2 separate regions of the Homo sapiens genome follow, and region 1 is linked to region 2. The links come from fine-mapping of genetic effects on gene expression. Tissue or cell type: blood mononuclear cells. Region 2 holds a variant in brackets; the other region holds the start of a gene. All regions are shown on one strand. Distances are from middle to middle. Region 1 holds the start of TRPC6 (transient receptor potential cation channel subfamily C member 6). Region 2 overlaps TRPC6 (transient receptor potential cation channel subfamily C member 6).

The links. PIP is the estimated chance that this variant, and not a neighbour inherited with it, causes the effect.
Region 1: TRPC6 starts here. The variant in region 2 is fine-mapped to the expression of TRPC6 in blood mononuclear cells (TOPMed, PIP above 0.99).

Annotation. Positions count from the first base shown.
Region 1 is chr11:101,582,693-101,585,192 of GRCh38, reverse strand. TRPC6 (transient receptor potential cation channel subfamily C member 6) reads left to right here and starts at 1,186. Exons shown (of 13, transcript NM_004621.6): 1 at 1,186-1,859. The coding sequence starts at 1,690.
Region 2 is chr11:101,543,950-101,546,984 of GRCh38, reverse strand. All of the region lies in intron 1 of TRPC6 (transient receptor potential cation channel subfamily C member 6), which reads left to right. Among named protein-coding and RNA genes, the nearest start is that of MIR3920, 26 kb to the right of the region's middle. The variant ATTTC/C (reference allele first, on the strand shown) is at 1,776.

The sequences.
Region 1 (2,500 bases), 38 kb before region 2:
CATCCATCCATCCATCCACCCACCCACCCACTCACCCACCCAAGCATGCATGCATGCACCCTACACACCTGTGTCAAATACGAAGCTGGATCCTCAGGACACAGTGGTTTCTGCTCTCTCTGAGTTTCAGTTCTAAATTTAAAGGCAAACTCAGAAGTTTCTAAATGTGTGAGCTCTTTTCCCTTCTATCAAATCAATTGCATTTTCCCACACTTCCAACATTCATTTTGTTGTCCACCTGTTCATGGGAAGCAAAGGCACCTTTGCAGACAGATTTCAGTCTGGCTTTCTTTCATCCAATTGCAATGGGCCTCTGATCTTTTCATGGCTGGCTGCTTGCCATGCATGTCTCAACTTAACGAGCACCTCCTTGGAGGGGCCTCTTTTAACCATCTCATCTGAAGTAGTCATTCACCAGCTGCCATCACATCAACCTGTTTTATTTTCATTGTAGCATTTGTCCTTGATATTTTTTCATTTGCTTATTTAATTGGTCCCCCTTTCTGCCACGAAAGCTCTATGAGGGCAGACAGGTGCCTCATCTGCTTCTTTGCCTCCGAATTCTGAAATGATTTGAAACGCAGTTGGCATTCATTAAATATTTGTTGACTTAATGAATGGATTCTTAATTGGCTACTACTGCTTAAAGGTCTACAAATACTGATTCATCCTTGTTGACAAGTTTTTACTTCTCACACGTATGCATATTAATCAGAATTTAAAACTAAGTCTTAAAAATAAAACAGCTTGGAAACGTGGGAAACATCTGGCAGAGAAATCATTCTTGCATTCGCAGTGACGGAAGGAAAATTTTTTCTCTGAAGTAAGCAGGTTGTTGGCCTCTTTATCGGTATCATTGGAAAATGCTTGCCTATTTTTGTTGGTTTTCTCAGGAACTGGGAACATCTGGCGTTTGGAACATAGAACGTTGTTCATTTTTAAAGCAGAGTCATAATAACTTTATGAGTTGAGGGTAAGAGAGAAAATGACCAAAGAAAATGAAGGCAGTCTGGAGAAAGAAGAGGCTCGTGTCCCTTTTAAGGAACAGGTTTCCTTGGCTCTTTGAGAGTGGTTCTTAAAGGAAGCTTCCTACGAAGTCCGCAGTTGGTATCCTTACTAAATGAGCCAACTAAATAGTGGAGGGGAAAAAAAGAGTGCGTGCCTGGCTCCTCCTAGTTCAGGCTCATACCGCCTCCTGAAAGTTGTGGCTACAGGACAGGCTTTGGCTGCTTTCTAGAACGTCGCTCGGATCCCTTTAAAGGTGGGGATCTTGACGGAGAGTGCGGGGGATGAAGGCGGGAGCTGAGGGCTGGAGAGTCTCTGTTGACATAGTAACTCTTCAGCTCCGTCTCCCTTGCTCTCCGCTCTTACGCTTCGCTACCACCAGCGGCCCCGCCTGTGCCCTCTCTGCCCGGGCGCCCCAGACGCATCCTCGCGGGGTCTCCTCGGCCTGACCTGCTCAGGTCAAGATCCTCTTTGCACCCCCTTAAGTGGTGACTTTTCCCCGGGCCAGTGGGCGAGCCACTTGCGGCGGGCGTCTGCACCCCCTGCTTCACCGTCGTCCCCTGGGCACCGGTCTGCCCAGGTCCAGTTCGGCCGCTGACGCGAACCCTCCGCACCGGGTCCCCGCTGGAACTGCCCACTCGGCTCCCCCGGGAGCGGGGCCCAGGCCAGTCGGGCGTTCCCGCCATGAGCCAGAGCCCGGCGTTCGGGCCCCGGAGGGGCAGTTCTCCCCGGGGCGCTGCCGGAGCCGCTGCGCGGCGCAACGAGAGCCAGGACTATCTGCTCATGGACTCGGAGCTGGGAGAAGACGGCTGCCCGCAAGCCCCGCTGCCTTGCTACGGCTACTACCCCTGCTTGTGAGTGCCGGCGACGCGGGGCGGATCGGGCGCGGGCTGCGCGGAGGGAGGTTGTGCGCTCGCAGGAGTGGCCGAGTCCGTCCGCGCGCGTCCTGAACCCGCGTGTGTACCTCCTAGGACGGTGCTGGGAGGTCCGCGAGAGCCAGGGCTGGGACCTGAGTGAGTGGAGGGGCGCGCGGGGAGTGGGGGAGGCGGGGTTGTCTAGGTTTGCTCCTCGTAGGTACGCATGGATATGTTTGCCCACGAGAGTGAGACCGCATAGTAACACCACCATTGCAGGTGATTAGATGGGTGGTCGATTTCTCCAGACCCCTTCATCCTGCGCTCTACAAGAGACAGGATCGCTACGTAACAGGCGGGATCTGAACAGGGGGCTGATTCAGATGTGCGCCCGGGTGACTCTTAGCCTATGTGGGGGAGAGATGACTAGAACTCCAAGGGTTGGAGCTGCCTGGGTGCTGGGTGCGCCCGGCGGTCTCCACGCTTGGCTTAGCGTTTCGGGCTGAGCGCTGAGGTCCTTGGACCGTGGGACAGCCAAAGTTAGACCAGGACCTCTCCCCGGTCCTGGGGCCTTGGAGTGAAGACAGAAATAGAACCAATAGGACTCTCCACCGGCGGCGCGAACCTTTTCACCCGGGGCG
Region 2 (3,035 bases):
CTTTCTATAAGTGGATGATGTCATTTGTATTTTTTATTTCTTGCTTATTTTGTTCACCTGATAATTTTGACATTCATAAAATTTTAGTCTCTCTAGTTCATTTTATTACTGTACAGTATCCCTTGTATAAATATACCATCCTTTATTTATCCATTCTATTATTGATAGATATTTGTGTTATATGTATACAGTCTTTGTTTGGTAAAAGACATCTTTTTAAAAAAATCATGAATAGAAGTTAAATTTCATCAATTTTCCTGCAGCTGCACTTCACTTTTTTTGAAATCCACTGCTTCCCAAATGATATGATAGTTGCTTTATATACATCATGTTTAAAACTCAGATCAGTGTTACAAGTAAGTATTACAATTCCCACCTTGTACATGAAAAAGCCAAAGCTCAGAAAGGCTAAGTAGCTTGCCCAATTTTCTAGGTACTAAGTGGAAAAGCCAAGATTCAAAGTCAGGTTTCTCTGGTCACTTCATTCACTCATTCATTAACTTATGCATGTATTTATTCACTAACTTGTTACCGAGGAACCTCCATGTTATCTTGAAATCTTTGCAGTGGTTCCTTTATCTCATCACATGAGTATGAGGATAAAGAGTTATAAGGCCGGGTGCGGTGGCTCACGCCTGTAATCCCAGCACTTTGGGAGGCCGAGGCGGGTGGATCATGAGGTCAGGAGATCGAGACCATCCTGGCTAACAAGGTGAAACCCCGTCTCTACTAAAAATACAAAAAAATTAGCCGGGCGCGGTGGCGGGCGCCTGTAGTCCCAGCTACTCGGGAGGCTGAGGCAGGAGAATGGCGTGAACCCGGGAAGCGGAGCTTGCAGTGAGCCGAGATTGCGCCACTGCAGTCCGCAGTCCGGCCTGGGCGACAGAGCGAGACTCCGTCTCAAAAAAAAAAAAAAAAAAAAAAAAAAAAAAAAGAGTTATAAATGTGATACTAGATCCATTATTTTTTTATTTCCTGTGAACTCAGTTTATCTTCACTCTCTCTTCTTCTTTATAGCCCTATTCACAGAACGGAACAAGTTGAACATCATAGGCAAGCAAATAAATGAAGGGCCCATCTGTGTGAAAACCAGAAAACACCAGAAATGCTACACGTGTAAATAGGTCAGATAAAATTGATTCCTATGTTTAGTAGCTAATATGAAAAATGAAGTCTATCTCAAGCAAGTGGAAAGATGTCTTAATTAAAGGAAGGTAAATGATAAAGCCCTCTCCATCATCTACCTAAAAATTATTTTAAGAAATAGGGGGCAACTCCTAATGTGTTAGCTAAATTATAAGAAATGTATTAAGGCTGAATCCAGATGAGTGTTTTATCTGACTATTTGGTTTTTATCAGAGACTTAATAATGTTAACAGAGTATTGGATTAGCAGTCAAAAGACCCAGACGATCTAATAATCTCAAGAAAGCTATTTTATGGATTACAAAACTAGCTAATGTGCCTTGTAAAATAGAAGTTTTGTTTATATCAATTGTTGGGGCAATGTAATGGATAGATATACAGTTGTTCCTTACTATCCATAGGGGATTGGTTTTGGGTTCCCCACTCCCCACGCAGATAGCAAAATATATGGATGCTTAAGTCCCTGATATAAAATGGGGTAGTATTTTCATATAACCTAGGCACACCCTCCTATATACTATAAATAATCTCTATATTACTTACAAAACCTAATACGATGTAAATACTGTGTAATAGTTGTTGTATTGCTTATTTACCATATTTTAATTGTTGTATGGTTATTATTTATTT[ATTTC/C]AAATATTTTTGATCCACAATTGGTTGAATCAGTGGGTGTAGGATCCATGGATACATAGGGCTGACTGTATATGATGTTTGTGTTTATGTGTGTATGTGTGTGTGTATAAAGACTAATACAGACCTATTTTTCATTCAGAACAATAACTCTTATAGGAGTCTCATACTTAAAGGCTAGGTGATCTTCATAAATTGAACAAATTCCTACAATGTTATTTCACAGGGCAGGGTTTCTACATATAGCACTACTGGTGCTCCAAGTACATTCCTAGAAAAGTTCAAAAAGTGTCAATTAATTTGAAGACCACTGAACAAACATTTTTTTTAATTATACTTTAAGTTCTGGGGTATATGTGCAGAACATGCAGGTTTGTTACATAGGTATACATGTGCCATGGTGGTTTGCTGCACCCATCAACCCGTCATCTACATTAGGTATTTCTCCTAATGCTATCCCTCCCCTAGCCCGCCACCCCCAACAGGCCCCAGTGTGTGATGTTCCCCTCCCTGTGTCCATGTGTTCTCATTGTTCATCTCCCACTTATGAGTGAGAACGTGTGGTGTTTGTTTTTCTGTTCCTGTGTTAGTTTGCTGAGAATGATGGTTTCCAGCTTCATTCATGTCCCTGCAAAGGACATGAACTCATCCTTTTTTATGGCTGCATACTATTCCATGGTGTATATGAGCCACAATTTCTTTATCAAGTATATCATTGATGGGTATTTGGGTTGGTTCCAGGTCTTTGCTATTGTGAACATTGCCACAATAAACATATGTGTGCATGTGTCTTTAGAGTAGAATGATTTATAATCCTTTGGGTATATACCCAGTAATGGGATTGCTGAGTCAAATGGTATTTCTAGTTCTAGATCCTTGAGGAATCACCACACTATATTCCACAATGGTTGAACTAATTTACACTGCCACCAACAGTGTAAGAGGGTTCCTATTTCTCCATATCCTCTCCAGCATCTGTTGTTTCCTGACTTTTTCATGATCATCATCCTAACTGGTGTGAGATGGTATCTCATTGTGGTTTTGATTTGCATTTCTCTAATGACGAGTGATGATGAGCATTTTTTCATTTGTTTGTTGGCTGCATAAATGTCTTCTTTTGAGAAGTGTCTGTTCATATCCTCTGCCCACTTTTTGATGGGGTTGTTTTTTTCTTGTGAACTTGTTTAAGTTCATTTTAGATTCTGGATATTAGCCATTTGTCAGATGAGTAAATTGCAAAATTTTTCTCCCATTCTGTA